3 linked regions of the Homo sapiens genome follow. The protein of the gene in region 2 purifies or fractionates together with the protein of the main gene of each other region. This does not show direct contact. Each region holds a gene or a part of one and is shown on either strand. Other genes may lie near its edges. The genes, in order: CLPX, DNAJA3 and CAPRIN1.

Region 1 (3,464 bases), on a different chromosome or scaffold from region 2:
ATTTTCTATTATCGTGGCTTTCTTAGCTAGGAGAGGTTACTTTGCTGTTTTGATTTTAAAGATCATGTTTACCTCCATTTTTTATTTTAAAAAAACAAACATGGCTTTTCATTGTAGGGCTCCAACAAAAGAATCCTCTGAAGAGGAGTATGACTCTGGAGTTGAAGAAGAAGGATGGCCCCGCCAAGCAGATGCTGCAAACAGCTAAACTGTCATATTGCTGTCTTGTATATACAGCTTTTCCTTCTTTTGTTTAGGATCATAATTGTCTCTACAGTCTGATATTAAAGGCATTGGATCTATCTTGGATATCATACATGGTCAGAGAAGCCTTTAGGAGAAGAATCAGATCATGTATATAATTGTAACATCACATTGATTTTACGGAAGATGTTATATGGACTTTAATGACACAATGTTTAGAGATAAAATGTACATTATTTTGGTTCAGTTTTTTAAAAAAAATATGCTTTAACAAAATTCTTAGGAATTCTTTTAAGCAATGCAGGTATTGCGATAACTGTAGATTTTACAATAATGTTACTCTACAAATGGGAAAATAAATTCTTTAAAATTGAATATTGAGATACCATTCTTTAGTGTTACCTTTTTTACCCACATGTGTTTCTGAAAATATTGGAATTTTATTCATCTTAAAAATTGGACCAGGTAGGCCGGGCGTGGTGGCTCACGCCTGTAATCCCAGCACTTTGGGAGGCCAAGGCGGGTGGATCACGAGGTCAGGAGTTCAAGACCAGCCTGGCCAAGATGGTGAAACCCCATCTCTACTAAAAATATGAAAAATTAGCTGGGTGCCGTGGCAGGTGCCTGTAATCCCAGCTACTCGGGAGGCTGAGGCAGGAGAATCGCTTGAACTCGGAGGGCAGAGTTTACAGTGAGCTGAGGTTGTGCCACTGCACTCCAGCCTGGGCGACAAAGTGAGACTCCGTCTCAGGGCGAAAACAAAAAATTGGACCAGGTAGTTTTCAAGTAGTTAAACATTTCATTGAAAAATACCCTGAAGAACTATATTTTGATAATTGGTTTAGCTGTATTCCTAGTCTTATCTGCTAATGCATGACACTAACTTCCCAATTGGTTCTGTAAAAAAGGCCATTTTCTTACCAAGTTGTCTGATTTATTTACCATCTTTTTTTTTTTTTTTTTTTTAATTGAGCGGAGTCTCACGCTGTCCCAAGCTGAAGTGCAGTGGTGCGATCTTGGCTCACTGCAACCTCCGCCTCCCAGGTTCAAGCAATTTTCCTGCCTCAGCCTTCCAAGTAGCTGGGATTATAGGCACGCACCACCACACCTGGCTAATTTTTGTATTTTTAGTAGAGACAGGGTTTCACCCTGTTGGCCAGGCTAGTCTGTAACTCCTGACCTTGTGATCTGCTGGCCTCAGCCTCCCAAAGTGCTGGGATTGCAGGCGTAAGCCACCACACCCGGCCTTATTTACCATCTTTAATCCATTTTAGTACTATGGGTGAGTACATGGAATTGAAGTCTGGCTTAAATCTTCAGAAAGTTATATATCTATTTTATTTTATTTTTTTGAGACAGAGTCTCGCTGTGTCACCCAGGCTGGAGTACAGTGCCACAATCTTGGCTCACTGCAACCTCTGAGTCCCAGGTTCAAGCGATACTCATGCCTCAGCCTCCTGAGTAGCTGGGACTACAGGCGTGCACCACCACACCTGGCTAATTTTTTGTATTTTTAGTAGAGACGGGGTTTCGCCATGTTGCCCAGGCTGGTCTCTCCTGAGCTCAGGCAATCGGCCACCTTGGCCTCTGAAAGTGCTAGAATTACGGGCATGAGCCACCGCATCCAGCCAGAAAGATACATATCTAATTCTAGAAATAGCATGCAGTATCAGTCATAGTAACAGCCATGTGCTGACCTAAATAAAATTTCTTGATATTGTGTATTTAACCTGAAGTATTGAGCTAGTTTTTTTGTTTTGTTTTTTGGTGCTGAACATTTTGGTCTAATTCTTTGGCTTCTTAGAACATTTTAAAAAATCTATGTTTTGCTATCAGCCAAAGTAAATGTGTTCACACTAACATATAAGTTACTAACCTTCATTATACAGCAAAGCTAAAAAGTGGTGGGATATTTGGGGTCTTAATGAAAATTGTATCATTTAATTCCATAAATATTAAAATATTTGGGTACCTTTTAAGCTTTTTTTCTTTCCTTCTATAATGGTGGTACAAGTTCTATATTCATTCAGTTTAATCTCATTTGAAATTGTTTAAATCAGAGTACATGTAAATATTTGTGGGTTTTTTTTTTTGGTTTATAGACTCGAGCTTTCCTTTTACACAGTTTTTTTTAGGGAAAAACTAAAGCTATTAGGAAATTCTAAATCTTGTTGATGAAGAGTTGGGCTTTCTTTGATATAATTAATAAAAGGGATGTATGGTATTTATGGCTGGGTAGGACCAGAAATGCACTTTGTATTACAGAGTGTTAAGGCTGGTTGCTATAGTATGGAACAGAAACACCTCTCCTTGGTCTCCCTAGTAATGGTTCAAGTTCTTCCCAGGAAGTCTTACATATTATAACTTTGTTCATTATCTTTCCCTTATAGCATCATTTTCCTTTTTGTAGAGTGGAAATCAGACTAGCTGCTAAACATATTAAGGTTAATCCTCCAGAAATGTACTGGGGAGGCATTTTAGTCACAACAACTTACATTTGGCTTTGGAAGTTGTTAACAAAGCATAGTCGATGTTTTTAAATCAAACATAATTTGTATCTTGGAACTTACATTTTGACATTTGAATAAAACAAAAAGACTAAATGAAAGCCAACGTGGTGGTGTGTCCATACAGCAATGGTGCAGGAGCACTCTGCATTGACAACAACAAGCACAGCCAAACAGTGCCATTTTTAAAAGGGCACAGATGTCATATGAGCTGCTTCATTCTAGGGATTGATTAATCCTTGGCACTTCCATATCAGATAAATTCTAGCTGTAGATTCCACAGACAATGTCTGTTAAACATTTATCAAAAATCCTTACTTAAATGTCCCGCTTGACACTAGGGACACAGGCCAAGTTTTTCAGGAATCTTACTAGTCTTGTAGGGGAAACAAATACAAACTAAAGTGTATTTTAATAGTGGAAGTGAGATAGGTACCAGGTGTGGTGACATAGAAAGTGATGGCCTAGATAAGTCTGGAAGAACAAGTAGAAATTTGCCAGAAAAGAATAATGAGAACTAAATCAAAATCTCAGAAGTGTAAAACAACAACTAGGAAGCTGTAGGAGGTAAGAAATAAGCAACAACTGTAACTTCTTGTTAATACTCTGAAATGACCATTTAATATTCTCCTCTCCATCTAGCTAAGGATCTTGCTTCACATTTCATTGAAAAACCATTGATGGAATTCATCATCCCACCATCTATAAATCTATCTACTCCATCACTCAACCTTTCTCTCTAGTTACAACTGA
Region 2 (3,652 bases):
TCTGGAATCCAAGTGAGGGTCAGCACTGTCGGCACCCCAGACCCATCTGCCTCTATGTGCTCTGGGTGGCTGTGAGCACAGGATGAGGCCAGCCAAGTCTCCTGTAACCCCCATAAGCCACCTGCAGAGGCTGTCTGAATTCTTTCAAAGAAGAAATGACCACAATTTAGGTTTGAAATATCTTTTTGCAATAGATAATCTTATTTACATTAATACAGAATCATTTTACATTCCTAAATCAGACACTAATAGATGCTTTATTTTAGTGAATTATAAAGGAAAACAAAAAGGAAACTGTTGAGAAGTGTTCTTCATTAACCTGTCTAACGACAGCCCGAAGATCCTGAAACACATGGAAACTGCGACATGCTACCAGCAGAGGCTGGGGAATGGGGGTTCTGCTCTCACTGAATGGTGGGGAACCTTCAACTGCTTAGCCTGTGCTTTCCTTTTCTGAATCAACATTTACAAAGGAAAAAACAATGATTAGCACTGAATAATTTAAACACACTTCAGAAAATAGATGTCAACAGTGTAAGTGGGAGAACCAAGCCCCTGACTAGCAACAGTGGCAGGGCTTCAGTTCCCAAGGCAGCTGAAGTCTGGCCAGCACAGTGCTGCAATGGGCTGTGGCTCAGCAGAAGGGCAGGAGCCCTCCATGCCTGGCTTACAACAACAGGACTCAATAGTCAGGGACAGGCGGCCATCCCGGATGGGGTGGGAGCAAGGACTGTACATCCTGACAAGGATCACCACCCACACGGTCAGAGCAGAACCCCCAGGGACTCTCTGGGCCTCTACGTGCCTCCCAGGCACCGACTGTGCAGCTGCTTGGTACCCCGGGAATAAAAACTAACTGAGCAGAGCAGCTGATGCCTCGGCAGGGCCCCTCATTAGGGGAGGACGGTGCTGGTGGGGCCTGGGGGCCCCACGCTCCCAGTGAAGACAACCTGTCAGGAAGAACTCATTCTGGAACCTCCCGGAGGTTTGCTGAGAAGGAAATTAATCACTTCGTAACTTGATGCAGCTTAAGGCTTCATTTCTAAGCTGTAAGCATGGCCTTTAACTAAGATATCCACAATATTCAATTCCAAATTAGAGTTTTAGCCCTGCAAGAGTCTAACCATCTCCCTCTGCCTGAGCCAGGGGCCGTCACCTACCAATGGACAGGAAACTGCCACCAGCCTCTGGGGCTGCATCCTACTGCCCGGGCTGTCCACTGTGACCTTTCCGTGGAGAGAGGTGTTGTCCCATGATTTTGCTGTTGCCAAGGCCGTCCAGAGGCTCTGCGGGTGGGAGCTCAGTGCTGCTGTTCTGGAATCCTCCCGTCTCCCAGGTGCCCTGGCCCTTGGAGGGGCTGCTGCTTCCCGGCCTAGTTTCCAGTGGATCTTTTTCCTGAGCCAAAGAGATAGGCTGTTACCTTATACTCAACATTTCAAGGGAACACACCCCTGTGGGGAGCGTCTGTTAATCCCTGGAAAGCAGCTGTGCCAAGAGAGGGGCGAGAACCCCACTTGCTGAGATGAGCATAATAAACCAAAGTGGGTCCCAAGATGACACGGCGAGCAAGCGCTACCCCTGGAGCAGCCCCCAGGCTTGCACAGCCCTGCGCTGTCCACGCAGGAGGGCAGCTTCCAAGCAGGCAGGACGTGAGGAGATCTGAGTTCTAGGCCTGGCTCTGCCTGACTCGCCCTCTGTGACCATGGGCAAGCCGGACCCACCACTGCAGGGGGGCTGTACAACAGCCCCAGCATCGCCACCTCCCCAGGAAGAAGACACAGCCAGAGGCTGGCCGCGGCAGCCCAGCCAGTCCTGCACTACAGGCTGATTGCCACGTCATCTATTCCCTAGGCTGAGAGGCCAGCTCCTAGTGGAGCTAGGTTTACCACACCTTGGACTGGCACCTGTTCCAACTCCTGGGGGTGGGGGCACAATATTGGTTAAAGTGGGAGAAAACCAGGATTAGTTCACAGAGGAAAACAAAGGGAAAAAAAACCTCCAGGGTTTTCCTACCTCGGCTGGGATATCATGAGGTAAACATTTTCTTAAGTTTGGAAAGGAATCCCTCCTCGTCCTCCCCAGCCTCACGCCTAGCCTTGCTTCCTGCGGAGCTATCCATGGTGCTGCCACCTGGGCACAAACAGCAGAAAGAACTGGCGTCATGGGCCTGCACTTCCACAGTCACATCCCAGGGCCCACCTACCCCCGCCTGGCCACCCAGGGGCCCACGTTCAAGAAGCGGCCAAGTGCCACCTCAAGAAGAGTGGGGGCCACTCCTAAGATGGCACAGGATGCCTCACCTTGCAGACGACTGAGGTGAACAGGCCACTCAGAGCCTGAGGGTCTCCCAACTGCTCTTTCAATCAAGGACCCACAGCAGGGAAACAAGAAATAGAGACGGACTATGACAGCTGTCTCTATCTGAGCAACAGTGACAAAAACACAGTCAAGTGCCAGGCACCTCCCAGGCCAGGCCATACACTTCCTTACAGGCAAATTTCACAGATGAAAAAACAAAAAAAGGAGGCACAGAGAGGTTACAGGGTTTACCCAAGGCCACAGAGCCAACAAGCGGGAGGGAGGACTGAGTGCGAGCCCATGCAGTCTGACTCCAAAGCTGAGACTCAACCACCATGCTGTTGGCTATAAGAAGGTAAATAATGACTGCCAAGAAAAACCCTACTCTAGACCAACTGGCCAGATTCCATGCTGCTGTGTGCGCAAAGACCCTGCAGAACAGCCCATGTGGGAGTCACGGCCACGCACAATCCTTTGTCACAGGCACTCCATCTCATCCCTCACATCAGCAGTCTATCTCCCTGAGCAAGTTGTCCCCATTTGGGGCACCTAACCTAAATGCTCTCAACCTAGGGAAGCTGTGCTGCAATTTCTTTAGGGCCCAGGCTGACACCATCTAGAGGTACTTTCTCACACAAACGTGTTACAGATTTGCCAACTACTAGACAAGGAGTGCACACTTTTGTTGTGAGTTAGAATATAGACCTGAACTTGGCATGTTAATTGTAGAGCTCATTTTTAATGTGCTCAGAGACCTAGGCCACGCACAGTGCATAAAAGAGTAAAGGCCTCAGTCTAAGTAAGAAGGTGCCTTCGCTAGTGAAAGGTCCAAAGTTTGGGGCCACAGGTCCCCGGGAAGGGGTGAGGGAGGCTACATAAAACAGAGTGAGACCCAGTCTCAAAAAAGAAAAGGCCGGGCACAGTGGCTCACGCCTGTAATCCCCGCACTTTGGGAGGCCAAGGCAGGCGGATTGCCTGAGCTCAGGAGTTCGAGACCGGCCTCGAACATGGTGAAACCCATCTCTACTAAAATACAAAAAATTAGCCAGGGGCGGCATGCACCTGTAGTCCCAGCTACTCGGGAGGCTGAGGCAGAATTGGTTGAACCCAAGAGGCAGAGTGCGTTGCAGTGAGCCGAGATCACGCCACTGCACTCCGGCCCGGGTGACAGAGTGAGACTCCGTCTCCAAAAAAAGAAAAAAAAAAAAAGAACAACAAGGAGCCATACTGTGTCTCTCACTCAAAAAGTCACATAGTAATTGCAAGCCCCCCCAGTTCCCTCTCTGTTCGCCAGAAGATGGACCTGTTTATCCCTGCAAGTGCTGAGTCTCTAAGCACACCATGGTCTTTCTGG
Region 3 (3,652 bases), on a different chromosome or scaffold from region 2:
CACCATCTCTATTTTAAAAAAATAATTAAAAAATATTTTTTCACTTTTGTTTTAATTGGTTCCTTGGTTTCTTTCTTAGCTTATGAAAGAAAATAAGAATTTCATCAGTGTCCAAGTCTTCTGTTGGAATTCAGCAAATTTATTGTTGTGGATAGCTGTCAGCCTTTATTTTTATGTTTAGGTTCATTTTTCCTCTTGATGACTTTTTAAGTTTTTCTTAAGTCTTGCATTTTAAATAATGTATTATAATATAATAAGCCTTTTTTATTTAGAACTGAGAATTTCAGAAGACATAGTTTAGACATAATTCTAAAATTTAGTGCAGATTTCTCCATCTTAGAAGTACTTGTGGAGGGCTTTTATAACGAGACTTGGGTTTATTTAACGTCGAGCTTCAAAAATATATATATTTTTGCAATTTTTAGGTTTTATATTATACAAATTTAAAGAGAGATGGTAATATTAATTTCTCCCTTCTTTAGCAGTTGTATCTATTTCTTAGCCTTATGCGTCTTAGAGGTAACTTGTTTTTTTAACAGTCAATTTTGTAAGCAGGAAGAAGCTTTTATTTCTTTACTTATGTCTAGGTTCCTTTGGTATCATCCACAAGTGAGGGGTACACAGCATCTCAACCCTTGTACCAGCCTTCTCATGCTACAGAGCAACGACCACAGAAGGAACCAATTGATCAGATTCAGGCAAGTTCTGTTACCGGGTCACATACATTTGATGAGGCACTTACTCATGAATTGAACAGATGTACATTACCATTAATATAATGATTCTTCTTTTTGGACCTACTTTGCTTTCATGAAATATTTGAGTTTGTTAATACATATAAGTTTGAGATTAATTTACCACTTTAGTACATCTGTTCACTTTTTGTTTGGCTAAGTTTAGTTTACCGCTAAAGTGCATCTATTCACTTTGTGTTTAGGCAACAATCTCTTTAAATACAGACCAGACTACAGCATCATCATCCCTTCCTGCTGCGTCTCAGCCTCAAGTATTTCAGGCTGGGACAAGCAAACCTTTACATAGCAGTGGAATCAATGTAAATGCAGCTCCATTCCAATCCATGCAAACGGTAAGCAAATTAACTAACATTAATTGCCTAGTATGTAATATGAATCATGGTAGATTTTCTTTTCTTTTTTAAAGGTCTTCATTTAACTGTGCTTGAGTCTGCATCTTTCATTAACTGTAGGGTATATTTAATTGAACATAAACTGATTATTCCAGAGATTAACTGATACTAACGGATATTCTAGAGATAAATTTTAGCCTTATGAGTGATGTGCCTGTATCATCTTAATTTGTAGTTTTACCCTTTTGATTTGATTAACAAAAGCTTAAACATTCAGAGAAATAGACTAATATAACATCCATATAATCATTACCTAGATTTAATAGTTGCCCTGTTTGCTTAATCTTTTATTTTACTGAAGTATTTTGAAGTTTCAGATGTTATGCTTTACCTTGATTCTTGAGCAAGCACCTTTAGAGAATTTCTAGAAAATAATAATAATACTATAATCTGTGGGGTGCAGCTAAATCGGTGCTGAGAGGAAAGTTCATAAGATTAAATATTAAAATAACTTTTGATTAATATGTTAATAAAAATGAAAAAACATTCAACCCTGTTAAAGTTCATAGAACAAACTTCTGTAAGTGGTACTGCATCCAGGAGTTTGTCTTATTTATTTATTTTTTGAGACAAAGTCTTGCTCCGTCGCCCAGGCTGGAGTGTAGTGGCGTGATCTCAGCTCACTGCAATATCCGCCTCCTGGGTTCAAGCGATTCTCATGCCTCAGCCTTTGGAGTAGCTGACACTCCAGGCATAAGCCACCATGCCCAGCTAATTTTTGTATTTTTAGTAGAGACGGGGTTTCACCATGTTGGCCAGGCTGGTCTTGAACTTTTGGCTTCAGATGATCTGCCTGCCTCAGCCTCCCAAAGTGCTGGGATTACAGGTGTGAGCCACTGTGCCAGGCCAGAGTTTGTCTTTTAAAAAGATTTCTCATATATGTAAAAGCATTTCCAAGGCTGCTGATTGCATGTCTTTTTATTTTTTTTAATTCCCTACTTCCATTTCACAGCATATTATACTCCCCTTTAAGTACTATATGGTATATATGTCTTTTTCCACATTGAATCACTTGGAGGGATTTTTGTATGTGTGTGTGATGTTTTTGTGTTTGAGACCTCTGTGATGTCTTTATTTATGTCTGAGGTAAAACCACCATTGAGTTTGGCCATGTTATAAACCAGAGAATAAAAGGATGAACTAATCATTTACTTTATTTACTAACAGGTGTTCAATATGAATGCCCCAGTTCCTCCTGTTAATGAACCAGAAACTTTAAAACAGCAAAATCAGTACCAGGCCAGTTATAACCAGAGCTTTTCTAGTCAGCCTCACCAAGTAGAACAAACAGAGCTTCAGCAAGAACAGCTTCAAACAGGTACGAAATCCAGTGTCACCTCATTGGCTCCTTGCTTTCCAGCACAGTTATTGACAGTGTTAGGACAGTTTAGACTTCAGAGTGGTGGTGTCCAAGAGTTTCTGTTTTAGTAGCAGACCATATGAATTTTTCATTTCAGATCATGAGTTAAATTGAGTCTGTACTTGTATATGTGAATTATGTGCAATTTTTGGAGGCTTTATAGCCATTTTCCTTTTGTCACTGAACTTACATAATATCCCTGTTGCATTGTATAATTTATATGGAATTAAATTTGTTACTTGAATTACCATAAAGTGTACTTTTTTTTTTTTTTTTGAGATGGGGTCTCACTCTGTCACCCAGGCTGGAGCGCAGTGCCGTGATCTCGGCTTACTGCAACCTCTGCCTCCTGGACACAAGCAATCCTCCCTACCTCAGCCTCCCAAGTAGCTTGGGAATACACGCATGTGCCACCACGTCCAGCTAATTTTTTGTATTTTTGGTAAAGTTGGGGTTTCACCATGTTGCCCAGGCTTGTCTTGAACTTCTGAGCTCACGTGATCTGCCCACCTCAGCCTCCCAAAGTGCTGGAATTAAAGGCGTGAGCCATTGCACCTGGTGATAAACTATACTTTTAATTGTTAATTGATTGAAGGCTTTTAGCATGATATCTGGCATTGAGTCAGTTAGACAAAGTTAAGAAAAAACTCATGGTGGCTGCATTTCGTGGACTGGGTTGAAACATAATCTATTTTGTCAAGTAAGGTCATAATTTGGCTAGTTACCATACCTGTCACGATAGTAATGTAGGTAGGGACGCTTTTATGTATTTGAGACAGGTTCTCACTTTGTTGCCCGGGCTGGAGTGCAGTGATGCCAGCATAACTCACTGCAGCCTCAAACTCCTGGGCTCAATGATCCTCCTCCCTCAGCCTCCTGAGTAGTTGGTAGTTGGGACTACAGGTGCTTACCGCCATGGCTGGCTAATTTTTTTTTTTTTTTTGTAGAGATAGGGTCTCCAGGAGCTCACTATGATGCCAGGCTGATCTCCAACTCCTTGCCTTGAGCGAACTTATTGTCTCTGTCTCCCAGAGTGGTGGGATTATGGGCATGAACTACCTTGTCTAGCTCGATAGAGATACTTTAGATTTTTTTTTATATATATATTTTTTTAAGAAATGGGGTCTCTGTCTGTTGCCCAGGTT

The links.
Region 1: the proteins of DNAJA3 (region 2) and CLPX purify together in Homo sapiens (affinity purification with mass spectrometry, with the first as the bait; one large-scale study listed by BioGRID). This does not show direct contact.
Region 3: the proteins of DNAJA3 (region 2) and CAPRIN1 purify together in Homo sapiens (affinity purification with mass spectrometry, with the first as the bait; one large-scale study listed by BioGRID). This does not show direct contact.

Annotation. Positions count from the first base shown.
Region 1 is NC_000015.10:65,147,567-65,151,030, reverse strand, and holds the end of CLPX (ATP-dependent clpX-like chaperone, mitochondrial precursor), read left to right. Parts: intron 1-117; coding exon 118-208; 3' UTR 209-2,812; downstream 2,813-3,464. UniProt on the Homo sapiens protein: ATP-dependent chaperone that functions as an unfoldase.
Region 2 is NC_000016.10:4,453,289-4,456,940, reverse strand, and holds the end of DNAJA3 (dnaJ homolog subfamily A member 3, mitochondrial), read right to left. Parts: intron 2,131-3,652; coding exon 2,027-2,130; 3' UTR 2,014-2,026; exon of another isoform or gene 2,013-2,013; intron 1,396-2,012; coding exon of another isoform or gene 1,373-1,395; 3' UTR 166-1,372; downstream 1-165. UniProt on the Homo sapiens protein: Modulates apoptotic signal transduction or effector structures within the mitochondrial matrix. Affect cytochrome C release from the mitochondria and caspase 3 activation, but not caspase 8 activation.
Region 3 is NC_000011.10:34,089,592-34,093,243, forward strand, and holds part of CAPRIN1 (caprin-1), read left to right. Parts: intron 1-587; coding exon 588-698; intron 699-937; coding exon 938-1,087; intron 1,088-2,314; coding exon 2,315-2,465; intron 2,466-3,652. UniProt on the Homo sapiens protein: mRNA-binding protein that acts as a regulator of mRNAs transport, translation and/or stability, and which is involved in neurogenesis, synaptic plasticity in neurons and cell proliferation and migration in multiple cell types.